Linked DNA regions of Homo sapiens. The protein of the gene in region 1 interacts with the protein of each later gene in a pairwise test. Each region holds a gene or a part of one and is shown on either strand. Other genes may lie near its edges.

Evidence for each region.
Region 2: the proteins of DUSP19 (region 1) and ALK interact in a two-hybrid assay, tested with the Homo sapiens proteins (one study listed by BioGRID and IntAct).
Region 3: the proteins of DUSP19 (region 1) and INSR interact in a two-hybrid assay, tested with the Homo sapiens proteins (one study listed by BioGRID and IntAct).
Region 4: the proteins of DUSP19 (region 1) and FLT4 interact in a two-hybrid assay, tested with the Homo sapiens proteins (one study listed by BioGRID and IntAct).

What each region holds. Positions count from the first base shown.
Region 1 is NC_000002.12:183,088,207-183,095,746, forward strand, and holds part of DUSP19 (dual specificity protein phosphatase 19), read left to right. Parts: intron 1-7,224; coding exon 7,225-7,452; 3' UTR 7,453-7,540.
Region 2 is NC_000002.12:29,218,289-29,225,828, reverse strand, and holds part of ALK (ALK tyrosine kinase receptor isoform 1 precursor), read left to right. Parts: intron 1-263; coding exon 264-368; intron 369-2,005; exon of another isoform or gene 2,006-2,300; coding exon 2,301-2,487; intron 2,488-3,221; coding exon 3,222-3,312; intron 3,313-3,420; coding exon 3,421-3,485; intron 3,486-4,993; coding exon 4,994-5,123; intron 5,124-7,540. UniProt on the Homo sapiens protein: Neuronal receptor tyrosine kinase that is essentially and transiently expressed in specific regions of the central and peripheral nervous systems and plays an important role in the genesis and differentiation of the nervous system.
Region 3 is NC_000019.10:7,164,875-7,172,414, forward strand, and holds part of INSR (insulin receptor isoform Long preproprotein), read right to left. Parts: coding exon 7,416-7,540; intron 5,878-7,415; coding exon 5,663-5,877; intron 3,221-5,662; coding exon 3,094-3,220; intron 1,531-3,093; coding exon 1,280-1,530; intron 1-1,279. UniProt on the Homo sapiens protein: Receptor tyrosine kinase which mediates the pleiotropic actions of insulin.
Region 4 is NC_000005.10:180,625,252-180,632,791, reverse strand, and holds part of FLT4 (vascular endothelial growth factor receptor 3 isoform 1 precursor), read left to right. Parts: intron 1-917; coding exon of another isoform or gene 918-1,013; coding exon 1,014-1,110; intron 1,111-1,992; coding exon 1,993-2,237; intron 2,238-2,454; coding exon 2,455-2,567; intron 2,568-2,686; coding exon 2,687-2,849; intron 2,850-2,956; coding exon 2,957-3,096; intron 3,097-3,364; coding exon 3,365-3,533; intron 3,534-3,792; coding exon 3,793-3,910; intron 3,911-6,526; coding exon 6,527-6,681; intron 6,682-6,760; coding exon 6,761-6,923; intron 6,924-7,540. UniProt on the Homo sapiens protein: Tyrosine-protein kinase that acts as a cell-surface receptor for VEGFC and VEGFD, and plays an essential role in adult lymphangiogenesis and in the development of the vascular network and the cardiovascular system during embryonic development.

The DNA.
Region 1 (7,540 bases):
AACAGGTTTGTAGTCTTGGAGCAATAGGCCATACCATTCTAGGTTTGTGTGAGTGCACTCTGTGATGTTTACACCACGAAGAAACTGCCTAACAACACATTTCTCAGAATGCATCACCATTGTTAAATGATGCACGACTGTATTTGGATGGAAGCAAAGGAAGAGGTTTTTTTTGTTTTTTGTTTTTTGTGTTTTTTTTTTTTGTTTTTTTTTTTTTTGAGATGCAGTCTCACTCTGTCGCCAGGCTGGAGTGCAGTAGTGTGATCTCGGTGCACTGTAACCTCCGGCTCACTGCAACCTCCGCCTCTCGGGTTCAAGTGATTCTCCTGCCTCAGCCTCCCAGGTAGTTGGGACTATAGGAGCACACTGCCACACCCGGGTAATTTTTTGTATTTTAGTAGAGACAGGGTTTCACCGTGTTGCCCAGGCTGGTCTTGAACTCCTGAGCTCAGGCAGACCACCTGCCTCAGCCTCCCAAAGTGCTAGGATTACAGGCATGAGCCACTGCACCTGGCCAAGGGAGAGGTTTTTTAATTCAAAGCCTAATATTGGCCATTCTGTTTTCTTGTTAAAAAATTTACAGGCTCTGGATTGTAACATTCCAGTGTGTGAGTTAATAGTTTTAAAAATAAAAAGGATGTTTCTGTATTGGCTCCTTCTCTAAGGAGATGTAGAATATGCCAGAGATGGCAAAGTATAGATATCATCCATATTCATATTAACATTAGAAGAGATGTAAATGTTGCAAGTAAAAATTAGAGAGGTTAATCATATCTAGAAAGAAAAGCAAGAGATTGAATATTCTAATAAGCTTGGAATTTTAAATAAATTTAAAAAATAAAGTTTGCCTTAATTTGGGCCAGTAAATTAGAGTGGATTTTAGCTTGGGTTTCCTAAAAATAAAGCCTGAGATGAGGATTTAGAGCTTATGCTTAATTTGAGAGGTACAATCTCTAGGCAGTGAGAGTGGCAAGAAAGGAAAGTGATTCAAGGTGGGACGAGAAGCAATACAAAGTGATGCGTTTACCCTGCTGGGCTCATTTCACAGTGAGCTGACTGTTGGCTATTCAGCAGGTACAGCTACTCTACCACCCAAAATACCTCTGGACAGGCAGTACAAAGAAACTGCACCTCAACCCAGCCTGGAAGGGAGGATTTATCTGCCTGGCTTCCTGTCAGCTCCTGTTTCCCATTGGTCAAAGTTTGCCAGTGGGGATATAACCAACCCCACAATTCTAGGTTATAACATTCCACTCTTTCAGCAGCCACCTCGAAGCCAAATCTAACACCCAGTAATACAACTTTTCAACCAAGTTGAGAATTAGAAAATCCAGAACTCAGAGTACGCCTGTCTATACTGTGGACACCATGGAAGAAGAGCTCCTTCTTTGACAGGCAAAAGTGAAAGCAGGGGAGAGCAGTCAGCCATGGAGGTGGTAGCCGAGGTGGAGCATGCTGAGAGGGTCTGTGAGATGGCGGCACCACAGGAATCTGAGGAGCTGCAGAAAATGTTTCTGATAAGATGAATTAGATTTCAGAAATATGTTCTACCCTCTCAAGCCTTGTGTTTTATACTGGAATCCTAACCTCAGCCAATATTTCCCTGCCCTGAAAACTCAGTGCCATGACACAATCTCAGCTCACTGCAACTCCACCTCCTGCACTCAAGTGATTCTCCTGCTTCAGCCTTCCTAGTAGCTGGGATTACAGGTGCGCACCACCATGCCTGGCTAATTTTTGTATTTTTAATAGAGACGGGGTTTTGCCATGTTGGCCAGGATGGTCTCAAATGCCTGACGTCAAGTGATCCACCTGCCTCAGCCTCCCAAAGTGCTGGGATTATAGGCATGAGCCACCATGCCTGGAAGGCTAATATATATTTAGTTTTAGCAATAAAAATTCTTGAATTTTTTTCATTTTTTTTAAGAAAAGATCTCTTCATGCCTTTGTCTATTTTATATTCAAGTATTGTTAAATCTAATTACTCAGTGAATTACATGTTTCAAAACTACCTTTCTAGGCTATAGTTTGTTGTTTTCATCTTTTTGCATACCGTTGCCAAATGGAATGGATTCCATTTCCTAAGTCTTTACTCATTTCCCTCTGTACTTGCAAAACTCTATTTGGCTTCTCTGTCCTTCCTTTATGCCTAAAGGGACAGAAATACACCTGAGAAGAACAGTAATGGTAACTTCTATAGCCCAAAGAGTCCTTTTAGGAACTAAATTTATTTGTCCCCTCTTTTTATGTACAAAAGGTACAAAGTATAACAATGTGTATTTGATATTTCATGTTCATTGTTTATAAGATGTGATTTTAAAAACATGACGTAAGTAGTCCATGTTCTTTGTAGAAAAAATGGAAAATGCAGATGAAAATTAAGACACTTCCACACTTAGATATAAGCATTGTTAGCATTTTGATATATTTTTCTAGACCTATATATGTATTTTTATAAAAATAGTATCATACAGTTTATATTCTTTTATAGCCTGCCTTTTTTTTGGGAGGGCAACTTCATGACTTTATTTGTGGTACCTGTGCTTTATCTTGAAAATACCTTCTCCCCCTGTCCCAGACAGCGGGCTGGGAGGGGGCAGCAAAAAATAGAAGACTTCCCTCCCTATTGCACATGGACCCTATGTACAGGCCCACCCGGCTGAGGCCAGCAGGCCTCTTGGCACATTCTTGGATCCCTGCTCAGGAGGGGAGGGCTGACGGGGTGCTATCACATGTGAGATCGGGAACTCTGGGCGGCCACTTTGGTCCTGGGTACTGATATTTGCACTTCTTGGTCCTCAGTTCCTTCCTGGTCCTGTCTCTGGCCCTAGTCCCCTCTGTATAGCCTGCTTTTTATACTTGATGATTCAAATCATTTAAAATTTTTGCACAGTATTCTGGTAGTTGGTGATTCTATAATTTATCTTATTTCCTGCTATGAGACATGTAAGCTGTTTGTAGTTTTTTGTTCAATAGAAGTAAAAGTTCATTAGAGAGACATTATGGGTCTAAATAAGTACCTAAATTCACGAAGTTTTTAGATGCTTCTGTTACAAGTAGAGGGTCATGACTGCAAGTTGTCCAGGTTCTTGGCATTTTGAACAAATAATTGGACAAAACGCCCATCAAAGCAAAGAAAGAATGAAGCAACAAAAGAGCAAAAGCAGGGATTTATTGAAAGTGAAAGCACACTCCACAGTGTCGGAGCAGGTCCAAGCAGCGGCCCAAGGGACAGGATACAGAATCTTCTTGGGTCCAAATACCCACTAGAAGTTTCCCAATGGCCACTTCATGCTCACCTTATGTAAATGAAGTGGTATCCTGCAGTCAGTCTGATTGGTTGGAGAAAGCAGCCAACCAGAGGCTGAAGTGAAGTTACAAAGGTCACGCTCCTGTGCAAACATCTGATTGGTTGCAAAAAGCAACCAGTGAGAGGCTAGGGTGAAGTTACAAAGTTATACTTCTATGCAAACGAAGACTTGGCCTGCAATTAGTCTGATTGGTTGTGGACAGCAAATTTCCCATCTGCATGCAGAAAAGGTGAGGGGTTTGCAAAGGCAGTAGCCCCCGGTGCTTTTGTTACTTAGGTGTGGAAAGTTAGGGTTTTCCTTTGAATTTAGTTCTGGGAAATCGGAGTAAAACAGCCTTAGGTTCCCTGCCACCAGACCCTATTCTCTTGCTTTACTTCTTCCATTTTGTTTCAAAGCAGTCTACCCATCACTTTTTTGTATTTGTCATATTTACATTCCCCTCTACTACTGTGGATAGTCATGAGTGGACTGTTCTGACCTGTGCTCCTCAAAGTGTTGTCCAGTTTGCTACCAGACCTCTGCAGGATAAGAAGGTTGTGCCTGAATATAAACCAAGACATTGCTTAGTTCTTTGAGAGATTTTGGCTACTCCCCCACCCCACCCAAACGCTGAACTAAGGAGTATATTTTTAGTGACAATTGATTTTCATTCCACTGCAAAATTCTTATTTCATCATAGGTGGCTGTCAAGCACTTGCAGACTATCACATTATACCCAAGGTTTTTTTAAGTTCTGGGGCACATGTACAGGATGTGCAGGTTTGTTACATTGGTAAACGTGTGCCATGGGGATTTGCTGCACTTATCAACCCATGACCTAGGTATTAAGCCCAGCATGCATTAGTTATTTTTCCTGATGCTCTCCCTCCTCCTACCCCACCTAACCCCGACAGGCCCCCAGTTTGTGTTGTTCCGCTCCATGTGTCTATGTGTTCACGTTGTTCAGCTTCCACCTATAAGTGAGACATGCAGTGTTTGGTTTTCTGTTCCTGCGTCAGTTTCCTAAGGATAATGGCTTCCAGCTCCATCTGTGTCCCTGCAAAGGACATGATCTCATTCTTTTTATGGCTGCATAGTATTCCATGGGGTATATGTACCACATTTTCATTATACAGACTATCATTGATTGGCATTTGAGTTGATTCCATGTCTTTGCTATTATGAATAGTGCTTCTGCCCAAGTTTTTTTTTTTTTTTTTTTTTTGAGACAGAATCTTACTCTGTCAACCAGGCTGGAGTGCAGTGGCATGATCTCAGCTCACTGCAACTTCCGCCTCCTGAGTTCAAGTGATTCTCCTGCCTCAGCCTCCTAAGTAGCTGGGATTACAGGTGCCCAGCACCACGCCCAGCTAATTTTTGTATTTTTAGTAGAGATGGGGTTTCACCATGTTGGCCAGGCTGGTCTCGGACTCCTGACCTTGTGATCCACCCGCCTCAGCCTCCCAAAGTGCTGGGATTACAGGTGTGAGCCACTGTGCCTGGCCATGCCGAAGTTTTAATGGAAGTTAAATATAAGGAAAAACACCTGGGCCTGGCTCAGTTACTGTTAACAACTATTAATTACTTATTCTGAGAAGATGTGAGGGATACACATTGCTGCCCTCAAGGAGCTTGAAATCTAGTTGAAAACTATAATAGCACAAGAACAAAGACAACTCTATGAAATGGAAATAACATAGCATAATTACTATCTGCCTATAGGTTACTACTTGCCCATAGCAAAATGGTGATTTTGAATTTTTGAAAGAACACTTTCCTTTCAGAAATGCAGAACAAATGTATTCACTTAGCAAAAAGTTATGGAATAACTACTATATGCCAAGAATTGCACTAAATACTAGGCATACAAAGATGGTTAAGACATTCCTCATACCCTCATTTCACTTGGAAAGAGGCAGTCTTAGAACAGAAGTCAGAATTAGCTGTACCAAGAAGAGCAAAGGTCTTCTAGGCATAGGACAACAGCAAGTGCAAAGGAAAAAAAAAGTGGTTTATAAATTGTTTGTTACTATTTTGAGCTCTGGAAAAGGGATATAAAGCCAATAATTTCTCTGGAAATACTTTCAAGGACAATATGATACCTAAGGAATAATCAAAAGTAGAAAGTAGGTAAATTGAAAAGCTGTAGAAAAACAGCTATTATATAAAGTAGAAAGAAGAAAATAATATCATTTGAAAACATTAGCTAAAATTGGATGCACAATGTGTAAGACTGAAAATAAAGCTAGTTTCATGTTCAAAAGCCTATGTATGCATCATAAAGTAAAGCCGACTAGTATATAAGCAGGAAATATTAAAAGTGACATTGAAGGGTATCTCTTGCTTATTAAGGTTATGATTGCAAGTTTCTTTGGAGTATCTAATTAATTTGTTTTATGCTAAATGAAGTTCATTAATAATTTTCATCAGTTACTTTAATATAATTTTTAAACATCTTAAGTTTTGTAAAAATGGGCTATTGCTACAAAATGAGAAAAGTTCCCAAGGTGTATAGTGAATATTTGTGTTTTGCTTTTCTTATATAGAAACTGTTGAAGTTTGAAAATGAGTCATAAATATCTATAGAAAAGAGTAATATCCCATAGTAATGTAAGATGTGAAAAAAGAAAACAATTGATATTTTCCTTTTTTATATGAGGATTTTCAAAATGTTAACTAATTTTGTTATTAATCATTTGGCTTTCTTGAAAAGAGATGCACTTGCAAATTTGTTACAGCAGATCAAGGAAAGGAGTTTTGCAACAGATGTCTGAATCGGAAAACTGCCTTGCAGAAGTAAAATAATCCAATGAGTCATAACAATAGTATTGTTAATATGTGCTTTGGGTAGAGGGTTTTCAGTAGTATATTTTTTCCCTCCTGCTCTCGTCTTTTTTTGTGTTGTACCAAATAAAGAATCAAGAAATGAAGTAACTAAAATGTCTAATTCTGGAGGGTGTGCTCACAGTTCACCACATTTCATTTAGATCATTAACTTTTTAAAAGCTTCAGATAGGCCAAGCTGTATCAATGCTGTCCCATCAGATCTATCACATTCATTATTAATACAATATTGCCCCCATCAGCATTGGTCTTGCACTGTGTCTCTTTTCACTTGGAAAGTATCATTTGCAAGTTACCTGAAATGTTTTTCATTTATTGACCTCATGCTGGTATGTGATTACCTTTTCCACTTCACATTGTTATGAGCTATTTGTGTCACATTTTACTACATCGTAAGTTTAAATATTTTTAAGTAACTTTCTGCCAGGATAAAATATGTGCAAGGGTAGAAAATTTTTTCCTTGCTGATTATTTAAACAGATTTGCAAGCCATTGACACTAGCTTATTTATGAGAACACTAAGTATACTCTGGAGTATTTCTGGCTTTCTGTTTAGCTTATAGTTATGATTTTATTTTATGTTTCCACATATATTTCCTGTGGTTTTTTTCTTATTTATATACACTTATCTACTAAGTTGTTAGGTTTTATGTGTACTTTACTGATACATTTGGCTACAAAGTTGTTAGGTTTTCATGTGTACTTTACTGATACATTTGACTACTAAGTTATTAGGTTTTTATGTGTACTTTACTGATACATTTGGCTACTAAGTTGTTAGGTTTTAATGTGTTCTTTACTGGATTACTTTAGTTTAATGAAAGATACTGTTTCAGAATTCCAAACATCATTAAAGCATTTCAATCATGGGTTAGTAGGTAAGGGAGGTACAGGTTGATTGATTGATTGATTGAGTTTCCATTTGTTGCTGGTAATGAATTTTATTTCAATAATCAAATAAATTGAATCAAATAAATCAATAAAACTGAATATTTACTTTATACTTTCAAGTAGTATAAGAATGTGCAATTGATATAATAACCTTTCTCAAATGAATAATGAAGATTTTTGTTTGTTTTTTTTTTTGTAGGATGGAGTGGTTCTTGTTCATTGTAATGCAGGCGTTTCCAGGGCTGCTGCAATTGTAATAGGTTTCCTGATGAATTCTGAACAAACCTCATTTACCAGTGCTTTTTCTTTGGTGAAAAATGCAAGACCTTCCATATGTCCAAATTCTGGCTTCATGGAGCAGCTTCGTACATATCAAGAGGGCAAAGAAAGCAATAAGTGTGACAGAATACAGGAGAACAGTTCATGAGTTGCATTGTAGCAGACAATGGACAACTGTAGTTTCTGAATTGACTTCTATAGCCATCTTTTCCCTTTTTTGGAGAGTAGACTAGCAA
Region 2 (7,540 bases), about 150 Mb from region 1:
TCATGTTTCAAACCAACATCCCGCCACTGATATTCATCCCTGTTAAATTTCCCTTCACCCAAAAGCTACTGCTAAAAGCCTGTCAAATCGGGATGAGTCTGGTCCTGCTCATGGTCCCCTGAAAAGAAAAGTGTGACAAGGTCTCCAGCGATGGGAAGGAGCAAGTAGTTTTTGTCTCAGTGGGGGAGGTTATTTCTGACTTGGGACCAACTCAAAGGAGACCTGGTGTGGTTGTCAATACCCCAGTGGGACCTGTCTTCCAGTGTCACCCACCCCGGAGCCACACCTGCCACTCTCGCTGATCCTCTCTGTGGTGACCTCTGCCCTCGTGGCCGCCCTGGTCCTGGCTTTCTCCGGCATCATGATTGGTGAGTGCACAGAGCCCCAGGGACTCCCAAGGGGGCAGGAAGGCAGGACTGAATAGTGTCTCAGGCTGTGCCACAGGTGCCAAGGTGTCACTTCGTTATGCTAGTCCCTGGAATTGGGTGGGGTGGTGATTAGGGCAGCCCAGGCCAAGCCAAAACGGAAGCTCCCAACCTTCCCCCCACCAGAGCAGCTGCAGTTCCCTGAGGAGCCCCTGATTCTGCACCTCAGCCCCGTGTGTATCCTCCTGGCTGATCAGGGGGTGGGGAGCTCCTTCAGTGTCCATCACGATGGTGAAAGCTCGCCCCCACCCCTAGACGTCACTTCTAGCTCCCACATGCTTCCACCGGCGCAGCTCCTGTTTGGCTCCCACCCTATGTAATGCACTAGCCCACTCTTCCCCAAACCAGCCCTCCACCACCCTCCAGGCAGAGAGATAGGAAAATCGGTTTCTGAGTATATTTCTGTTCAGCCTGTGAGCCAAGGTGAGCTGACCTGCAGGTCACAGAGAACTCAGTGTGGTCCCAACCAGCTCTTACTGCTGGCAGAGACATGCCCAGGACAGATGGGCAGAGGCTTGAAAAGGGCAGAGGGAAAGGCTCTTGAGAGCCCTCGCAGGCCAGGCCCCTGCAGGCAAAGGGATCTGCCGGTAGAAGGGAGATGGCAGCACACACTGTGTCCCCATATGGTGCCATCCCTCAAAGGGACAGGATAATAGGAGCTAACACTTGTTGCATGGTTACTACGTGCTCGGCAATTTACACATTTCAATTCATTCGATCCTCAGGTAACCCTAATCTGATCACGGTCGGTCCATTGCATAGAGGAGGGAACTGAGCACATAGCGGGTGACTCATTTGCCCTGGCCCATGTGTTGGGGGGCTGGGCTTTACACACAGAATCTACCCACTGAATCACAATTTTGTTCTGGCTTCCATGGAGTTTGCCTTCCAGAACATCCTCACATGTAGGAGTGATAATGGTCACTCACATTGGTAGAGCTCTTTAGGATTTTTCAAAACCATTTTATGTTGGTGAATTCATTTCATTGACAACCCTAGAGGGTGGGGAGTGGCAGTGGTTAGGGAAACAGGGCAGGAGTTACCATCCCTGCCTACAGAGAGGGAAACTGCAGTCCAAAGAGGTCCTGTGACCTGGTCCTCATGGCTCAGCTTGTAAGTAACAAGAGGCGGAATTAGAGCACAGATCCCCAGACACCAATTCAGAGATCTTTTCATGATGTGGCTCTTCTCCAACTCTGTGGCTTGGCAGTTCTCCAACTATAGGAAACACAACTGACCAAGATCCCAGCTGCACCCTCAAATCCACTGCTGTGATTGCACTGAAGCTGCCCTACCCAATGGCTGAGCACAGCAGAAATACTAAGGCAGGCCAATTCCTGGGAGTCATGGGACTCCTCTGATGACTGACTTTGGCTCCAGAACCCCTTAGGGCCTTGCTGAAACTTCCTTAGGCTCCATGGCACCCAGGGTGCTTCCACCCAACCTTCCCTCCCTCCCTCGTTCACGTGGGGTTATACTTGCAACACAGTCTGCTGGTTCACCCAGCCTTCCCTGGCTCCCTCCCCATTTCCTCTCATGGGCATTTCTTCTAATAAAATCTGCAGACCATATTGGGTCTAATCCCATCTCCAGTCTGCTTCTTGGAGGAACCAGACTAACATGACTCTGCCCTATATAATACAAATAATTATTTTCCATATATCTGATTTTTAGCTTTGCATTTACTTTAAATCATGCTTCAATTAAAGACACACCTTCTTTAATCATTTTATTAGTATTTCTAAGTATGATGGAAAGGTTCAGAGCTCAGGGGAGGATATGGAGATCCAGGGAGGCTTCCTGTAGGAAGTGGCCTGTGTAGTGCTTCAAGGGCCAGGCTGCCAGGCCATGTTGCAGCTGACCACCCACCTGCAGTGTACCGCCGGAAGCACCAGGAGCTGCAAGCCATGCAGATGGAGCTGCAGAGCCCTGAGTACAAGCTGAGCAAGCTCCGCACCTCGACCATCATGACCGACTACAACCCCAACTACTGCTTTGCTGGCAAGACCTCCTCCATCAGTGACCTGAAGGAGGTGCCGCGGAAAAACATCACCCTCATTCGGTGAGCGCCCTGCTGCCGTCCTGGGAGGAGAGGGGTGCAGTGTAGGGGCTGAATGTTATCACAGCACCGCAGACTCCTCTAGCCACAAAAGGCCGGCAGAGCCCTCCCTATGGGCACCCCTAGCCCTCCTAGGAGGACAAGCCTTGACATTCAGGGCCATGTATGTTGGCTTACATTAACTCCCATAGTTTATGGAGTTTATACAATGAGAGGAGAACCAGGGCTCTCCTCAAAATTCATTCAGATGTGCTCTCTCCAAGTCTACCTGGCTCCCCTTCCCTCCAGGGGAGCAGGGGAGCAAAGGGCCCCTCCTCTGAGCATCTAGAGCAACTGCGCCTTCCTCTGTCACTCACTGGAAATACTCCCCAGCCAGTACCCACAGTGATCTGTCTCTCCCCAAGGAGCATGAACCTCCCCCGGGGAAAAGCCATGGCTTATGCACCCCTGTGTCCCTGGCAAATATCAGAGACTCAATAACTACTGATTGAATGAATAAACATTTGACCATTGTCATGAGTCCCTGGTTGGAATCCTTCTTACCAGTTTTCAGGTGAAGAACTGGAAGCCCGAGATTGCATAGCAAAGCCATGTTGAGGGTATTACTCCTGAGTGTGTATGTTACCCCCGCCTCTCGTGTTTGTCCACTAAATGTGACGCCCAGGCTCAGGACCCCCAGCTGCCTCATTATTGTGGCCTGTTTGACTCTGTCTCCTCTTGTCTTCTCCTTTGCACAGGGGTCTGGGCCATGGCGCCTTTGGGGAGGTGTATGAAGGCCAGGTGTCCGGAATGCCCAACGACCCAAGCCCCCTGCAAGTGGCTGTGAAGGTAAGAAGTGGCTCACTCTTGAGCCTGCCCTTGGCTTGCGGACTCTGTAGGCTGCAGTTCTCAGCTCACAGCCTCCTCCTCCTCCCCACCCTCCCCTTCTCTGCCCAGACGCTGCCTGAAGTGTGCTCTGAACAGGACGAACTGGATTTCCTCATGGAAGCCCTGATCATCAGGTAAAGCCACAGAGAGACACCCTCACCCCAACTCCCCTCTGCCCCCAAAGAACCTGGAGAGGTTTCTAACAGATCGATATCTCCAAGGGAAATCGTGTTGTCCCTAGCATGTCCCCTTTTCTCCAGTAGGAGACTCCCAAACATTCTAGACACTTCTTACCAGAATGGAACAACCCTTGATGGTTGTTTCAGAAACAAAGTCTGTGTGGCCTAATAATCCCACCGATGTCACTGTCTGCAACCAGTATCCCTGCTGTTATCCACTGGTTCTTCTTCCCTCACTTTTTCTTAAGAAATGGAGCATGCTAGACTTTGACAGTACAAGATATAATCTCCCTCCAAGACCCTTCACCAATCCCAGTAATTGTGCTTCTAATATGATGGGAGGCCACCCCATCCTAGGCTCCCATCAGCAGGGCTGAGTCTCAGCTGGCTGCACCTTTTGACTTGAGGCTCCAAGATCTGGATTTAAGCTGAGAGTCTCAGTGCCTATGGCTCCTGAGGGCGTCCGCTGTGACAGCAGATCCCCTCAAGGAGGGGGCAGATATTTGACCTCAAGATCAGGTGGGGGCTCATGGCCCCCTGTCACACTGGGAAGACTCTGAACGTCCTGACAGGTGGGGGCAGACTGGGATGTCCCCTTGGTGGAAGTGGCAGGGGTAACAAGGCCAGGCAGTGTGAGTGATATGGCTGTGAGGTCTGGAACCACAGGAGGACACACAAAATAACATTTATTTTCTGATGATACATATAATTCCTGATTATGAATAAAACTTGGCAAGTATGAGATTATATTGAAGAAGACCCATATCACTCAAATCTCACTACTTGGTGGTAACTAACCATTATTATGTTGGTGTCTAATCACCCAGTCTTTCAACACTTGGGGGGCTGTGTGTACATGTGTGTATGCACACACATGCATGTTGGCCCATGTGGAATTCCTAGGCCCTACTGCCCTGTGTGTCCTAAAGGGATCATGTTAACAAGAAAACCCAAGTCTTGGTCCCTCCCATGAGGAATCCACGGGAAACTGATAGACTCGTGAGGCCATCCCCTTTTGCTGGCTCTGTTTCACACGCTGTCACTTGGCAAGTCTCACCCAGTCTCTCTTGGAAGCAGTTGTTTTGCTTCACCTTCTGCCTGAGGCCTTCCTGGGAGAAATCGACCATGAATTCTAGCACCCAGTCCACGCACCAGTATCTGAGAAAGACACTCTCCTGCCCCCTGAGACACTTCCTCACCCAAGTGCCTGAGCAACATCCTCACAGCTCCAGCCACTCTCCTGCAAATGGAACTCCTGTGGAGCCTGCTGTGGTTCTTCCCACCTGCTCACCAGCAAGATTCTGGGTTTAGGCTCAGCCCGGGACCCCTGCTGCCCATGTTTACAGAATGCCTTTATACATTGTAGCTGCTGAAAATGTAACTTTGTATCCTGTTCCTCCCAGTTTAAGATTTGCCCAGACTCAGCTCAGTTAATTTTGGTTACATCCCTCTCTGCTCTGCAGCAAATTCAACCACCAGAACATTGTTCGCTGCATTGGGGTGAGCCTGCAATCCCTGCCCCGGTTCATCCTGCTGGAGCTCATGGCGGGGGGAGACCTCAAGTCCTTCCTCCGAGAGACCCGCCCTCGCCCGGTGAGTGAGAACCAGTCTTTGCTGCAGTTGTTGTGCCAAGGACAGGAGCAAGGATGGAAGGAGCAAGAGTGGGCAGCCTGGGTAGCAAGTTCCTCGATGGAACCCAGGGTGTCAACTTTAGGCTTGGACAGGGGGGTGACTGACTGGCTGGAAGAGAATGGACAGAAGATAGAGGTAGATGATGGCTGAGCCCCAGCCCCAAGGAGCTTGTGCAAGGCTCCTGCAATGCATTTGTATTAGTCCATTCTTGCATTTATATAAGAACTACCTGACTCTGAGTAATTTACAAAGAAAAGAGATTTAAGTGGCTCATAGTTCTGCAGGCTGTACAGGAAGCATGGTTGGGGAGGCCTCAGGAAACTTACAATCATTGCAGAAGGTGAAGGGGAAGGAGGCACGTCTTACATGGCAGGAGCAGAATGAAGGGGGAAGCGCTGTACACTTTTAAACAACCAGGTCTCATGAGAACTCACTCACTATCATGAGAATAGCAAGGGGGAAATCCACCCATGGTCCAATCACCTCCCACCAGGCCCCTCCTCCAACACTAGGGATTACAATTCAACGTAAGATTTGGGCAGGGACACAAATCCAAACCATATCCACATTCTATAGCCTGGATCCATTCTCATGGCCTGCTGACTCTGGAAAACCAAACTAGAGACAAACACAGAGGAGAACTTTCATGACAGCCATGTAACTACTCAAGCAACTGACCTGGGCAGGTCACTCTGCAGCTACTCATTCAGAGCCCACAGTCCTCACGTCTCAAGTAGGGATAATAATACCTGGACATTCCAACCGTATATTTAGGAAGGTGCTACACACATCTTATGGTTAACAGAGCTTGGGAAGTGAAGATACCCAGGGTGGACCCAGGAATCCCAAGCTCCAGCTCCAACTTGGCCATTAGACACCCGTGTAGTTTAGGGCAGTCTTAAACCTTTAACCTGGGTATCCTCACAGGTGAGATCTGAGGATTGGACTAGAACATCTCAAAGGTGGTTCTAAATTATTAAACATAGCACCCTGGGCAGACCCAGAGCCCAGCTGCCCATGCTTGGGTCTGCAGGTCTTCAGCAGGCCCCGGATACCAGGAACTGGAGCTGAGCAGGCCCCAAGGTTAGGATCCAGGCTTCCTCAACGAACCACTGTACTATGGGGATCACAAGGAAGACTTGCACAGTAAAAGCAGCGGCCACCCTCCCGCTCCCAGGAAAGGAGGGAAGACTGACAGCCAGTGGTTCCAGAAAGCCCAACCTGACCACACTGCTCAAAGGGACTCAAAGTGGTGATGGAAGCCCTGCAAGGTCATAGCTATTCTGATCTCCACCTTCAGTCAGGATCCATGTAAAATACCTTCACCTTAGCCACTGGGTGACGCATCTCAGTATCTAAGAAGAATACTGTCTTACCCCTTGAGAAGAGGAATTTGTGTGCACCTGAGCATACCTGGCAGGAGGACTGGGCAGGGAGCAGGGAGATAAAGACTACACCTGTCTGTCTCATAAGAGCCCTCATCAGCTGGCATCCTCCTCAGACCTTTCACATTTCTCAACACCACCCTATGAACAGACAATGCAGGTCTCTCCCCAATTCTATGGATGAGAAAACGGTGGCCCAGAGAGATTACGGGACTTGCCATGGCCACACAGGAAGTGGAAGAGCTGGGACTAGAACTCAGGCCTTGTGACTCTTGATTCAGTGCCCTCTCCAACTTACTGCTTATCCAGTGGTCCCCTCTGGGAAGCTGTAAACTATCAAGATGAGGTTGTGTCCTTAGAGCCAACACTGCCAGGCATCCAGGCATCTCTGCCATGGTACAGGCATCAGATTCACTGGCTTTCCCACCACCACCTAGGAAGGCAGAGCCTTTGGCCCTCATGCCCTGAGATTCTCAGCAGCACTGCTGTCAGTGGGGGACACGTGGCATCACACTTTGGGAAGAGGCACAGCCCTGGTTCTCCCACTGGACCTTCCTGAGGCTTAAGGAGAGAAAGTTGTATGCATGCAAAGGAGAGGGACTTTGCAAAGGGAGTCTGGGAGCCCAGCACTTGGCAAGTTCAAGGACTTCGGGGGCAGGAGATGGCAGGAGTGAGGAGTGGTGTGTCTCTATCTCTCCCTCTCTCCCCTCCCCCTTTCTCTCTCCCTCTCTCAAAGACAAAGGCATCTCTCTCCTTTGATGATGAAAGATGATTCCAATATTATTACAAAGAACATAGTCCAGCAAGGAAAGGCAGATCATTCTCTCTCTCTCACTACCCCCACCCCAGAGTGCCACCCTCGGAGAGTCAGAACAGGAGCCTGTCCCCAAGTTCTACCCTCTAACAGCAGGCACTACCTGAGGGACCCCCAGAACGGGGAGGGGGCCTGTCCTTGGAAGAGCCACTTCTCAGGGCCAGAGTCCCACCCTCACC
Region 3 (7,540 bases), on another chromosome or scaffold:
TAATCCCAGCACTTTGGGAGGCCAAGGTGGGCAGATTGCAGGTCAAGAGATTGAGACCATCCTGGCCAACATGGTGAAATCCCATCTCTACTAAAAATACAAAAATTAGCTGGGCGTGGTGGCACGCCTGTAGTTGCAGCTACTTGGGAGACTGAGGCAGGAGAATCACTTGAACTGGGACGGGGAGGTTACAGTGAGCTGAGATCACACCACTGCACTCCAGCCTCAGTGACAGAGTGAGACTCTGTCTCAAAAAACAAAACAAAACAAAACAAAAATTAGCCAAGTGTGCTGTAATCCCAGCAACTTGGGAGGCTGAGGCAGGAGAATCACTTGAACCTGGGAGGTGGAGGTTGCAGTGAGTCCAGATGGCGCCACTGCACTCCAGCCTGGGTGACAGAGTGAGACTCCATCTCAAACAAACAAACATAATTAAATTGCTGTGAAATACTCCAGGCCAAAACAAACAACAAAACAAAAAGAAGTAACAAGTGGGAAGAGGGAACAGGCGTCGAGATGAAACAAAAATGACCAAAGGCTGAAGCTGGGAGGCGGCTAACTATGGGGTTTTGTTCTGTGTTGTGAATATTTGACAATTTTTCATAATAGGATGAAAAATATAAATATTCCCATCAAGTGGCTTGTTGCTACTGCCTCGTCTGAAACTATAAGCCTCAATACCCAGCTCCTTTAAAAGCCAATAACTGACTGGGCAAGGTGGCTCACACTTCTAATCCCAGGACTTTGGGAGGCCGAGGCAGGAGGATCACTTGAGGCCAGGGGTTCAAGACCAGCCTGGGTAACACAGCAACGTTCTGTCTCTACAAGAAATACAAAAATTAGCTGGGTATAGTGGTGCATGCCTGTAGTCCCAGCTACTCAGGAGGCTGAGGTGGGAGAATTACTTGAACCTGGGAGGCGGAGGTTGCAGTGAGCCGAGATCATGCCATTGCACTCCAGTCCGGGTGACAGAGTGAGACTTCATCTCAAAGAAAAAAAAAAAAAAAAGCCACACATGGTGGTATACTCTGGTAGTTCCTTCTACTTAGGAGGCTGAGGCAGAAGGATTGCTTGAGCCCAGGAGTTTGAGGCTGCAGTGAGCCATGATCACCCCACTGCATTGCACTCTAGCCTGGGTGACAAAGTAAGACCCTGTCTAAAAAAAAAAAAAAAGCCAATAACCATATCAAGGAGCATTTTATACAACCTCACTGCATCAGCCTATTAAAAGCAAGAGGTCTGATTCACATACGAATTCACATTCCCAAGACACACTCACTGGTGGCATCTGTCTGGACATAAATGATGTCACTCTTGGCCCCATAGGTCCGGCGTTCATCCGAAAAGGTGACCAGGGTCTTCACAAAGATGGCATACTGGGTCCAGGGCTTGAGACCCCGCATCAGCCACCCTGGGTGGTTCTGTGATTTGGGGTCGTTGGACCTCAGGGGTGGGTCAATGTCTACCACCGTCCAACTGTTGGAACCACACGCATCCTGCCCGTCGAACTCCGTCACATTCTGATAAGGGCTTTCAAGACAAAACAGCAGAAGGCAGTTACCCTTACAAGACCGTCACACTGAGTGCCGTGCAGATGAGGCCTGGGAAGTTACATCCCATAGGGTCACATGTTACTCACCCAACAATCTAATGCCACAAGAAAAAATAACTCGGGAACAGCCAAAGAGAAAGGAACTGTCAACCCTGACATCTCAATGAAAAAACACAGCTTGGGCATCCCTTATTCAAAACACTTGAGACTTGGCCAAGTGCAGTGGCTCACGCCTGTAATCCCAGCACTTTGGGAGGCCGAGAATGGCGGATCACCAGAAGTCAGGAGTTCGAGACCAGCCTGGCCAACATGGTGAAACCCCGTCTCTACTAAAAATACAAAAATTATCTGGGCATGGTGGCAGATGCTTGTAATCCCAGCTATTCAGGAGGTTGAGGCAGGAGAATTGCTTGAACCCGGGAGGCAGAGGTAGCATCAGCTGAGATCGCACCACTGCACTCCAGCCTGGGCGACAAAGGGAGACTCTGTTTCAAAAACATAAATAAATAAATAAATAAATAAATGCTTGGGACCAGAAGTGTTTTGGATTTTGGATATTTTGGGGTTTTGAAATATTTGCATTTTACTAGTTAATTTGCATTGTACTGGTTCAGCATCTCTAATCTAAAAATCTGAAATCTGAAATGCTCCAATAAGCATCTCCTTTGAGTATCAAGTCGGCCCACAAAAAGCTTTGGATTTTGGAGCATTATAAATTTCAGATTTTCAGATTAGGGATACTCAATCTGTAATAATAGTAATAGCAGGAGCTCCCTCACAAGTTACTGATAAGATTAGACTGTGTGTCAGTGCTCAGCAAGGCACAAGGTAAATCTTGAGGGCTAGAACTATTATTAATATTACTACTGGTCAGGTGCGGTGGCTCATGCCTGTAATCCCAGCACTTTGGGAGGCCAAGGTGGGCAGATCACCTGAGGTCAGGAGTTTGAGACCAGCCTGGCCAACATGGCAAAACCCGTCTCTATCAAAAATACACAAATTAGCTACGTGTGATGGTGTATGCCCATAATCTCAGCTACTCAAGAGACTGAGGCAGGAGAACTGCTTGAACCCGGGAGGCAGAGGTTGCAGTGAGCCAAGATCTGCCACTGCACTGTACCCTGGGCAACAGAGCAAGACTCTGTCTCAAAAAAAAAAAAAAAATTGGGGATAAAAAAGAAAAATAGATAAGCAATACATTTGATAACATCCACTTAGTAGACTGAGCTCCTGACTACTAAGGATGTCTGATGAGACATACACAGGCAAGGCAAAATAGAATATTGCCCCAGGAAACTGGCCAGTCCGGGCTTCTATGGGAAAGCTGTCTGCTTCCATTTTAGGCATTTGATAAAAGCAGACACTATTGACTTTGCATGCCATCGACTGGTGAGATTGTAAAAAGGAACCTAAGATATTTATTCCAGGAGGAGGAGGGAGATAGACAGGAACCCAAGAGGGGCAGATTGGAGCACAAACGTAGCAAGCACAGAGCCAGCCAGCCCTCGCCTCCTCAGCGTCTCTCTAACTCTTCTACTTACGCCTCTTTGTAGAACAGCATGAACCCCAAGAGGTCTCGGAAGTCGGGGGGCCAGTACGGCTCCCATCTCAGCAAGATCTTGTCAAAAGATGTCCGAATGTAAGAAAATTTAAGTAACTCATTTTCACCTGGAAAAGTTAAAACAAAAGGCAAAAATGAGCTATTTCAGTGTAGTTTCAGACCAAAGCCTGGGACCCCCACACTTCCTGGAGGGACCGTGAGAAGGCAGAGGTGACGCTGCTATTCCCTTAAGGGTCTCCTCCCCATGTGCCTGGCTGAGTATGAATGGGGGAAGATTCAAAGGTAAGAGCCAGTTTTGCAACTTGGCCACTCACACTCACGTAAGCCAATGACTTGACTCAGCCAGACAGTCAACTGAATAAGCGCAGTCTGTACCCGCGCAAGAAGGACAACCGGCCAATAGTTATTGGAGGAAGGGATTTCCAAGGGTGATGTTTGTCCTGACACAACGTTGTCTCGCATATGGACTTGTAAGACTGACCTGGAAGGAGGTGCAACTCCAGTGCAAATAAACCTATGCCAAGTGAGTTTAGAGACCCTGCAGATCATTAGACATCGGAGAGACGCATCTAAGTAATTCTCTCTGCCTAGAAGACAAACCCTCTCCTAAACCTCACCCCAACCTCGCTCTCTCTCCTTGCACTACATTTTTTTTGAGACAGTCTTGCTCTGTCACCAAGGCTGGAGTGCAGTCCACCTACCGGGTTTAAGCAATTCTCATGCCTCAGCCTCTCAAGTAGCTGGGATTACAGGCACCCACCACCACGTCCAGCTAGTTTTTGTATTTTTTTTTTTTAGTAGAGATGGAGTTTCACCACATTGGCCAGGCTGGTCTCGAACTCCTGACCTCAAGTGATCTGCCTGCCTCGGCCTCCCAGAGTGCTGGGATTCCAGGCGTGAGCCACCATGCCCAGCCCTTGCACTACATTTTGACATAAGTAACTAACTCCCCATGAAGGTATCCCAGAAGCCCTTGGCAGCTCACTGTTTAGAATCTGTCAGGGAAGTGCAGTCAGCAGGCAGCCTGCAGCTGCAGAAACTGCAGGACCTGCTGTAGCATTCCAGCCAAAACCTGACTCTCCCTGGACAGCCCCCACCTATGACTGAGCTTGGTAGATGCCTGGCCGTCCCTTTGCAATGCAGAACTTCCCTGCAGACAACCGTGGCCTTGATCTCTTTCTGGGTTTGGCCAAGACTCAGGGATGCATCACCATCTGAGACTCTCCCAGCCCTATCCTCCCTCCTTCCCGCTCTCTGTTCACAGAGGTCAGACACACGCTATTGTCAAAAGGCTCTTCATGGCTGAGCGTGGTGACTCACACCTGTAATCTCAGCACTTTGGGAGGCCGAGGCGGGAGGATCACCTGAGGTCAGGAGTTCAAGACCACCCTGGCCAACATGGCAAAACCCTGTCTCTACTAAAAATACAAAAAAAAAAATTAGCCGGGCTTGGTGGCATGTGCCTGTAATCCCAGCTATTCTGGAGGCTGAGGCGAGATAATTACCTGAACCCAGGGGAAGGAGGTTGCAGTGAGGCAAGATCACGCCACTGCACTCCAGCCCTGGGTGACAGAGCAAGACTCTGTCCCAAAAAAAAAAAAAAAAAAAAAAGAAGCTCTTCCTCTGTTTCATATTTTATGAATATTACCCTCAATACATTTTCTGCACTCCTAACTTCAACTTGGCAGTCACTTCCCAGGAGATGCAGACTGACATAGGTATTTTACTCAACTTTGAAGTCTTCAGCATCAGCCTGATACACATATAAGAAGGTGTCATCCATTCATCCATCATTCATTCATCCATTCATTCAGTGCTTGTATGACTTCATCCCGTATCCGGTACTATATGGCACAGTAAGCATAGTGATAATATTAATAAATGTGCAGAATCTGCCCTCAGTAAGAAAGCCTATCACACAGTGAGTTGTTAGAGGGAAGTAATACCCCCTGGGGGTGACTGTGATGGATGAGAGAGGACAGCCACATTATCTGGTTTGTGGACCACTTACAGCAGGGGTCCCCAGCCCCTGGGCCACAGACCAGTACTTATCCATGGCCTGTTACGAACAGGGCTGTACAGCAGGAGGTGAGTGATAGGTGAGCAAGTGAAGCTTCATCTGTATTTACAGTCACTCCCCATCGCTTGCATGACCACCTGAGTTCTGCCTCCTGTCAGATTAGCGGCGGCATTAGATTCTCACAGGGGTGTGAACCCTATTGTGAACTGTGTACATGAGGTACCTAGACTGCACACTCCTTATGAAAATCTAATGCCTGATGATCTGTCACTGTCTCCCATCACCCCCAGCTGGGACCATCTAGTTGCAGGAACACAAGCTCAGGGTTCCCATTGATTCTACATGATGGTGAGTTGTACAATTCTTTCATTATATATTACAATGTAATCATAATAGGAATAAAGTGCATAGTAAATGTAATGCACTTGAATCATGCTGAAACCATCCCCACCCACCACCAGTCCATGGAAAAACCATCTTCCACTACACCGGTCCCTCATGCCAAAAAGGTTGGGGACCAGTGACTTACAGGATGCCTGGTCCCCATTGGTCTTCAGGGCAATGTCGTTTCTCTCCTGGCGCCCCTTGGTTCCTGAAACTTCTTCCATCTTGTGGATTTCTGACAAGCAGAGTTTGGGGTTATAGTGGAAGAAGAGTTTCCCCTGAGTGATGGTGAGGTTGTGTTTGCTCCAGTCCCAGAGCTGCCTTAGGTTCTGGTTGTCCAAGGCATAGAAGGAGTAGTTCCTATGGAAAAAACACACACATCTAGTCATTCAACGGCTGGTCTTCTACAACTCCAAGATGGTGTGGCCATGCTCGGAGTTGATCTTGTTCAGTGCTACGTGCCTAATCCTCTCCACTTGCTTGGCACATACTCAACACATATTTGTTGAATGTGGATAACAGAGGAAGTTGAGGAAGTTTTCATGGCCAGGAAGGAGGCTCAGCTCAGTCTTGAAGAGGGGTGGTGAGTCTGTGATGGACTGAGGAATAGGTTTTGCAGAAACCAATTTCTGCAAATAGGGGAAATACTGATAACACAGAGGCACCTAAGCTGAGTTCAGGGAAGAGCAAAGTAGCCTGTTTTGGCCAATAGGTGACAGGAAATAGCTGTAGTTGCAATGGACCAGACCCTCTAGTATATTGCATGCCAGACCAAGACCAAGAACATGTGGCCATCCTTAATAAGGAGAAAGGAGCCATTGAAGGTTTTTGTTTGTTTGTTTGTTTGTTTTATTGAGATGGATTCTCACTCTGGTGCCTAGGCTGGAGTACAGATAATATAGTCTAAACTATATTGTTTAGACCACCTTCTCAAGTCACTTACCAGCTCATGTTGATTAACATGTCCTTTTGTCCCTTTCCCCATTTGCTGTCTGTTCTACAGATGTGAGGCTGGGGCTGAGGCAGCCATCTTGTGACCATGAGGAGCACAAAGATGGAAAGAATCTGGGTCTTCCACAGACCTCCTGCCTATGAGTCAATCTTGATCTAGCTAGTTTGAGTTTCTGCTGTTTTGCTAATAGAGTTTCTAGGACCTCAAGGAGAAGGTTGGAATATACTGGAATATACTGAGATGGAGTCCATCCCAGAAATTAGGATGGACAACCGGGACTAAGAGGGAATGTTCATTTTATGCATGCCAAACTCTACTCACAATGCAGCCCAAACAGCAAATTTAGCAAAAATTCCAGCCTGTACCCTTGGAGGATGGGCACCAAGGTTGGGCTGCTCCCACTTTTGTTTCTCAAGAATGACTATAAAAAAGCTTTTACAATTTTTGGCTGGATGGACCTTTAGGCACATTCCAAGTTCTTTTTTCCCGAGGTTTTGCCAGATATACTTTTATTTGTTTTTTATTTGTTTTTATTTGATTTTTAAAAAATCCTTAAGTTTTTCCTTTTCTTTTCTTTTTTTTTTTTTGGACAGAGTCTCACTCTGTCACCCAGGCTGGAGTGCAGTAGTGTGATCTTGGCTCACTGCAACCTCTGCCTCCCAGGTTCAAGCTATTCTCCTGCCTCAGCCTCCCAAGTAGCTGGGATTACAGGCATGCACTATCACACTTGGCTAATTTTTGTACTTTTAGTAGAGACAGGGTTTCACCATGTTGGCCAGGCTGGTCTTGAACTCCCCGCCTCAAGTGATTCACCCACGTTGGCCTCCTAAAATGCTGGGATTACAGGCATCAGCCACCACACCTGGCCAAAAAAATCCTTAAGTTGTTCTAATACACGAACTTCCTAGTTAGCACTCAGGCCATACACACAATCAGGCCCACGTACCCAATTTCCAAGGTCTCTCCTCGAATCAGACGTAACTTCCGGAAGAAGGAAAGTGACACCAGAGCGTAGGATCGGCGGATTTTTAGATACCCTGAAATTTCTTCAATGAGGCCGAGGTTGGCTTC
Region 4 (7,540 bases), on another chromosome or scaffold:
TCATGTGTGAACACACGCCAGCATGTCCGAGATACACAAACATGCATGCATGTTTGCACATACGCAGGAAGCCACACACACCACTCAGACATAGGCACACACAGACTCACACACCCAGGCCTACAGTTACAGATGCACATGGAGGCACGCGTGTGCACACACACACACACACACACACACACACACACACACCACCTCACGGGGAGGAGGGTGTGGGGGCAGCAGGGCTGAGTCCTGCAGGACAGAAGGCCCAGCCCGGCCAGCCTACAGTCTCTGGCTGATGGTGGGTTTCAGCCAGATGAGGCGGGTTTATTTGTATGTCTGAGGAAGAGCCCTGTGAGAAGACCTGGGGGTGTCTAGGGAGGCCTGGGCAGGGAGAGCCCGGAGGAGGCTGGGGCAGCCAGCAGGGTCTGTGAGGGTGCGAGAAGCTGAGGAGCGAAAGGACACCTGTGAGGTGACACCACGTGGCCTGGGAAGGGGCGAGGCCCCTGGCAGAGAGCAGGCAGGAGGGGGCGAGGCCCCTGGCAGAGAGCAGGCAGGAGGGGGCGAGGCCTGCGTGGTTCGGGGAGGACCTGGGATGTGCGGACCCTCTGGGAAGCAGCGGGTGTAGGGCTGCAGTTCAGGAGGGAGGGCCTCAGGCAGCAGCACTGCAGGGGCCGTGATGTGGAGGTGACACACTCCAGCGCCCCTCCCCCGCTCCTTCATGCCAGCCGCTCAGCTCACCGGGGTCAGAGGTTGGGGTTAGGTCCAGGGCCGGTGTGTAGCTGAGGATGGGGGCTGTGGGGCAAGGCAGGGTGCGCCTGTGGGAGAGGTTCGTGGCTGTCTTGGCGCCTGGGAGCTGGTGCTGCTCACGGCGCACATGGTGAGGCCAGGCCACGCGGTGCTGGCTGAGAACCTGAGCTGCTCCGGCCCTGCAGGGGTCTGCGCTTGCGATGCAGAATGCCCAGCCATGCCCCATCAACGTCGTGCCAAGTCACAGCCCAGCACCACGCTGACCCTGTCTCCCACCCCAGGCCTGGTGAGTGGCTACTCCATGACCCCCCCGACCTTGAACATCACGGAGGAGTCACACGTCATCGACACCGGTGACAGCCTGTCCATCTCCTGCAGGTACTGGGTCCCTCTCCCACTGGCAGGCCAGAGAGGCTGCACAAGCCCAAGGCAGGAGGTGGTGGCTGTGGGCCCAGATGGCAGCCCCCTCCCAGGGCAGAGTCAGGGCAGAGTGGCCTCGGGGCCGTGTGGTCTCCCAGGCTGTGGGTGACTTCGGTCCTCCCCAGCCTCAACCACACACCCCCATCAGCATTTCTTTTTTTTTTTCTGAGATGGAGTCTCACTCTGTCACCCAGGCTGGAGTGCAGTGGTGCGATCTCGGCTCACTGCAAGCTCTGCCTCCCGGGTTCACGCCATTCTCCTGCCTCAGCCTCCCAAGTAGCTGGGACTACAGGTGCCCGCCACCACGCCCGGCTAATTTTTTGTATTTGTAGTAGAGACGGGGTTTCACCGTGTTAAGCAGGATGGTCTTGATCTCCTGACCTCGTAACCCACCCACCTCAGCCTCCCAAAGTGCTGGGATTACAGGCGTGAGCCACTGTGCCCAGCCCACCCCATCAGCATTTCATATGGGGCCTCATCACCCTGCACCCCACTCCTGACACCTCACACTGACCCCAGGCCACCTCCCAGGTCATCTGCATCCACTCCCAGCCACCCTGGGAGCACCCACTGGGGCCCCAGAGATGGGTACCTCCCCACCTTCCCAGCTGTGATCCAAGGCCTGTGCTTGGCCACAGGCCAGCCCCGGGAGCCTGGTAGAGGCCCGGGGGTCGGGGAGTGCCCTGCCCTGGGCACGGTCTGTAGTGTGCGCCCAAACCCTGGGCAGTTCCATGCTCTGGGTAAGACAAACCTGGTGAGGCTCGGCCTGAGGGAGGCTTCTCAGGGACAGTCCCCATGGGCTGCCCTGGGGCCCACCTGACCACTCCTGTCCTCTGCCAGGGGACAGCACCCCCTCGAGTGGGCTTGGCCAGGAGCTCAGGAGGCGCCAGCCACCGGAGACAAGGACAGCGAGGACACGGGGGTGGTGCGAGACTGCGAGGGCACAGACGCCAGGCCCTACTGCAAGGTGTTGCTGCTGCACGAGGTACATGCCAACGACACAGGCAGCTACGTCTGCTACTACAAGTACATCAAGGCACGCATCGAGGGCACCACGGCCGCCAGCTCCTACGTGTTCGTGAGAGGTGAGACTTGGAGGCGGGCCAGGCTGGAGCAGGGTCCCGGGCAGCTGGGGCCCACACCGCCCCCAGCCTGTGGACCCTGGGCTGGCAGGAGGAGAGAACGGGGCCCTACCTGCTCCAGCGGGTGGCTGGTTCAGGACCAGCACCACCCAGCCCCGTGGAGCCCTCCCCCAGCCTGGCCGCCACGTCCCTTCCCCAACAGCTTGCTCCCTCTCCATAGACTTTGAGCAGCCATTCATCAACAAGCCTGACACGCTCTTGGTCAACAGGAAGGACGCCATGTGGGTGCCCTGTCTGGTGTCCATCCCCGGCCTCAATGTCACGCTGCGCTCGGTACGGCCCCACCCCAACCCCAGCATCCGACCCTCCCATCCCACCCCTGGGAAAGGCGGCCGCCTGTCTGGCCAGGAGCAAGGGGCAGCTGGGCAATGATGGTGGCCTTGTCCCTCCAGCAAAGCTCGGTGCTGTGGCCAGACGGGCAGGAGGTGGTGTGGGATGACCGGCGGGGCATGCTCGTGTCCACGCCACTGCTGCACGATGCCCTGTACCTGCAGTGCGAGACCACCTGGGGAGACCAGGACTTCCTTTCCAACCCCTTCCTGGTGCACATCACAGGTAACAGGGCTGTGCCCCGTTCCCAGTAACGGGGCTGTCACTGCCTCACTGGCCTCAGTGGGTGTCGTCCTGTGAGGGCGTGGGAGTCACTGTGTGCGTGTCAACAGGCAACGAGCTCTATGACATCCAGCTGTTGCCCAGGAAGTCGCTGGAGCTGCTGGTAGGGGAGAAGCTGGTCCTGAACTGCACCGTGTGGGCTGAGTTTAACTCAGGTGTCACCTTTGACTGGGACTACCCAGGGAAGCAGGTGAGGTCAGCAGCGCTGCCAGGCTGTCCTGTCCCCAGGAGTCCCTGTGACTGTACAGCACACACTGGGCCTCCGCGTGGAGGATGTGTGGGCCCAGGCCTGCCCCAGGGGCCCCGGTCTGAGTGGCAAGTGTTCCACCCAAAGAAAACTCAGGGCCTGGGTCCAGGGCTTCCGGAGCCACCGCTGGCTGGGCTGGGAGGTGTGCCTTCGGTGGGGTAGCTGTGCAGGAGCCCGCCTGCTGACGCGGGGCTTCCCTGGGTGCGGGCAGGCAGAGCGGGGTAAGTGGGTGCCCGAGCGACGCTCCCAGCAGACCCACACAGAACTCTCCAGCATCCTGACCATCCACAACGTCAGCCAGCACGACCTGGGCTCGTATGTGTGCAAGGCCAACAACGGCATCCAGCGATTTCGGGAGAGCACCGAGGTCATTGTGCATGGTATGGCCTGGGAAACCAGGGTCCTTGTGCCCTGTGGGCCTGGGCCCAGAGCTCACGGTGCCCTTGAGCACTCAGGAGTCCAGCCAGAGGGAAGGGAGGGCCACGAGCAGAGGAGCTGCCCAGCTCCTGCACCGGGCGGCATGGCCAGCCCCAGTCTGCGGATGTCCGGCTGCCGGGGCTGCAGGGGCCGTGGGGGGAGTCCCTGGTCAGTCCACGACGGGTCAGTCCTGGATTTACAGTGACTTCTCCTGTCCGGCAGAAAATCCCTTCATCAGCGTCGAGTGGCTCAAAGGACCCATCCTGGAGGCCACGGCAGGAGACGAGCTGGTGAAGCTGCCCGTGAAGCTGGCAGCGTACCCCCCGCCCGAGTTCCAGTGGTAACAGCCCTGGCTCCCCACCGACCCCGCCGATACCCTTCCAAGTCCAGGGGCAAAACAGACCATAGGGGAAGACGGGCAGCGTCCTCCCCGTCAGGACCTGCACACGGAGACCAGGCATGGCGGGGGCCTCTCTCAGGAGACCCCCCAAGGAACCCGCCCATAATGTGATATTTCAGATGGAAGGTCTGTCTGTTCCTGCCACACTGTGAAAGGTTTCAGTACCAGCCTTCTGTTACATGTGGGTGTGGTGGGCACAGCGAGGGGCTTTTCCTAACTGCCTCCTGACCGCTGGGCCCCTCTCTGCCCTGCAGAATCTCCAGGGCCTGCCCTGCAGCAATGGCTTAGCGTTCCCTATGCCTCCTTTTGCGAGGCTGCCTCTCCCAGGACCCTTCTGTCCAGAAATTTGGAGATGCCACAGGGAATTGACAGATTGCCTGGGCTGGGCCTGTGCTGCACGGCAGCGAGCGAGAGAGCTTCCAGGAGGCCGACAAGCTGCTGGAGTCCCCGCAGATCCCCGATCTGCAAGCGTGTGCTGCGGCCCAGAGAAGGGAGGCCTCAGGGGTGGCCCTGTCTCCGCTGGCTACTCCCTGCAGGCTCTGGGGGGGCATGGCACCCCTCACAAACACGTCCTCAGGCCGTCTGAGTCATCCACATGGCTCACCCACAGTCAGTCACACTTTGAGTCCCCATTGCATAGACGAGGAAGCAGAGGCTAGGAAAGGGTATTCCTAACTGATCGCCAATTCCCCAGGAGGGGTCTCTGCACTGAGCTAGCCCAAGAGCCTCCTTCTCTTCAGCCTGGGCACCTCCCTCCTGGCAGGGCAACTTTTCCTGGAGCTGGGCAAGCAGAGGCCCAGGGTTTCCTCAGCCAGGGCCCCTTGCACTGGCTGGGGGCTCGTCTCTCCTGGGATGGAAGGCCCAGGGTGTCCTGGCCCTGAGCCCAGTGTGACCCTCCCACTGAGGACACAGACTTCGGTGTCCATCCAAGGCACCTGGTCAGTGCCAAGGCCCTTGGGGCAGAGTCCTGAGGGCACTGGCAGATCCTGGAGCCTCACTCACGGGTACAGCTCCTGGAGACCCCTGGGCCCTGTCCCCTGCCCTCCAAGGCCACCATTACTGAGCCTGCTCTGGGCAGGTGGCAGCTCTGTTGCGTCCAGGGTCTACCCAGTCCTCAGGCAGCTGCCTCTCAGAACAGCTTTCCACTGGCTCACTCCTGCCACATCTGGCTCTCTTCCTATGGCAGCCACCCACCCTTCCTGTGGTGCCCACCCTTCCTATGGCACCAGCACATGACGATGGCGAGCACTGACTGGGTGGACGGTCTAGCAAACACACAGATGGGCTGGTCCTTGGCTTCCGAAGCACCCGCAGTGTGTCCAGCACGCTGCTGTCACTGTCCGGGTTAAACCTCACGACAGCTGCAAGGTGCATGTCATCTCCATTGAGGCAATGAAGGAGTCTCAGATCCAGCAAGTGGCAGACTCAGGACCAGAGCCATGCAGACAGCACCACCTCAGTTCCGCCCCTGCCCTGCCCTGCCTCACTCTGCGACCCCAGGCCAGGCACTCCCCCCGGGCCCCTGCTGTGATGTCCAAGTTGAGAATGGGCCCCTGCCTCCCCTTCTCTGTTGGTCTCTGCCCGAGGGCTGTGCCTCTCCCAGGACACAGTGGTGTATCTCTGGCCTGCCACACCCAGCACCAGGGGCAGGCACCTGTCCAAAGGAGGAGCATCTCCATACAGAGTCCAGGCCACAGAGACAGGTGCCTGCAGGGGCCCCAGCACACCCTCTGGGGCTGAGGCATCTGCTTCCTCACGTGTGCAGCAGACATGTAGGCATCTGGGCGCAACTCTGCAGGAGGCAGCACTGCCCTCGTGGGGCTCCCAGCCCAGGGGGACGATGGGCAAACAGACACAGCAAGGCAGGGGCAGGCCACAGCATAGGACAGTCAGGAAGGCTGCACGCCCCCACCCAAATGAAGGAGGCAGGGAACCCTGCAGATTCCTGGCTACAGAAATGAGTGTCCCAGCGAGGCAGGCAGTGAGAGCCAGGCCTGGGGGCGGGGTGTGGGCAGCAAGAAGCCCACATGTCTGCAGGGGCCACGCACATGTCAAGGAGCTAGACTGTGCTCGCAGGGACTGCACCTCCACTCCTTCAGGTGTCTAAGAAAGAGGACGGGGTCTCCAGGCCGTGCCCAGCTGGGTGGAGGAACCAGGTGTGTGGGACCCTCCTGGGCTGGGCTGGGCAAGCCTGGCTGAAGAAGGCTGTCTGCAGCCACAGGCAGGGAGAGAAGGCGGCTGCCCCAGCAGTGACATGGTCATCTCACTACTTGTGGAGAGTTCAGAGGCTTTGGGGCAAGGCAGGAGGTGCTACTGCAGACCTCAGTGACCAATGCCCGAGCCGGCCGCCTGACACGGTTGTCACACCTGGCAGATACGGCCTGGAGACCATCTCCAGGGACTTAGACCATCCCCTCGCAGACCAGTGTTCCCCGTCCTACCCTGCACTCCTGCCAGCCCCTCCCTCCTCCCAACTGTATTTGGGGTGGGGGTGCCAGCATGAGGTTGGGGCTGTGGTGGGATCTGTATGGGCCCTGACCTCCCTTCCCTGGCCAGGTACAAGGATGGAAAGGCACTGTCCGGGCGCCACAGTCCACATGCCCTGGTGCTCAAGGAGGTGACAGAGGCCAGCACAGGCACCTACACCCTCGCCCTGTGGAACTCCGCTGCTGGCCTGAGGCGCAACATCAGCCTGGAGCTGGTGGTGAATGGTAGGTCAGGGACGGGAGAGCGCACGGGTGGGCGGCCTGGCATTGGAGGCCAGCTGACCGGCCATCTGTGTGCCCACAGTGCCCCCCCAGATACATGAGAAGGAGGCCTCCTCCCCCAGCATCTACTCGCGTCACAGCCGCCAGGCCCTCACCTGCACGGCCTACGGGGTGCCCCTGCCTCTCAGCATCCAGTGGCACTGGCGGCCCTGGACACCCTGCAAGATGTTTGCCCAGCGTAGTCTGTGAGTACAGCTCCAGCCTCAGGTCCCCTGCACAGCCACAGCCCCCAGCCTCAGCCATGAGGAACCTCCTTTACAGCACCCCTCACTGCCCAGGTCTTCCCTGTACCCCTTCTCAGGGCCCTGCTCTGAACTTGAACCCTACCTTCAGCTATAGCCAATCCCTGGCCTCACCTCGCCTGAGTGAGGCTCAGAGCCTCCCTTGCACCCATCCTCCATCAGCTGGCCAAGCTGGACACAGGATGGGTCTGGCCCCTGCCCACCTCCCTCAAGAGCGAAGACCTCTGGACACGTAATTGCATCATCTGGAGGGAGAAGGAAGCACATGTCTCTGAGCACCCAGCAGGACACCTCCAGCGGGGTGGGGACCTGGGGGGGTGTCACCTGAGCCCCTGGGATGGTTGCACTGAGCCCCACGGCACACCATGTGTGCTCATGGGCCTCAGCTCATCTGTGCACCACTCACATCCCCTTAGAGACAGGGAAATAGGGTCAGAGAAGGGAGGCGGCTTTCCCAGGGGCACAGCTGTAAGCAACAGGACCCAGCCACCTGCTGAGCCGTGCTCCCCTCCACTGAGCGGGATGCCAGCAGGACATTTAGACAAGCAGGGGGTGAGAGG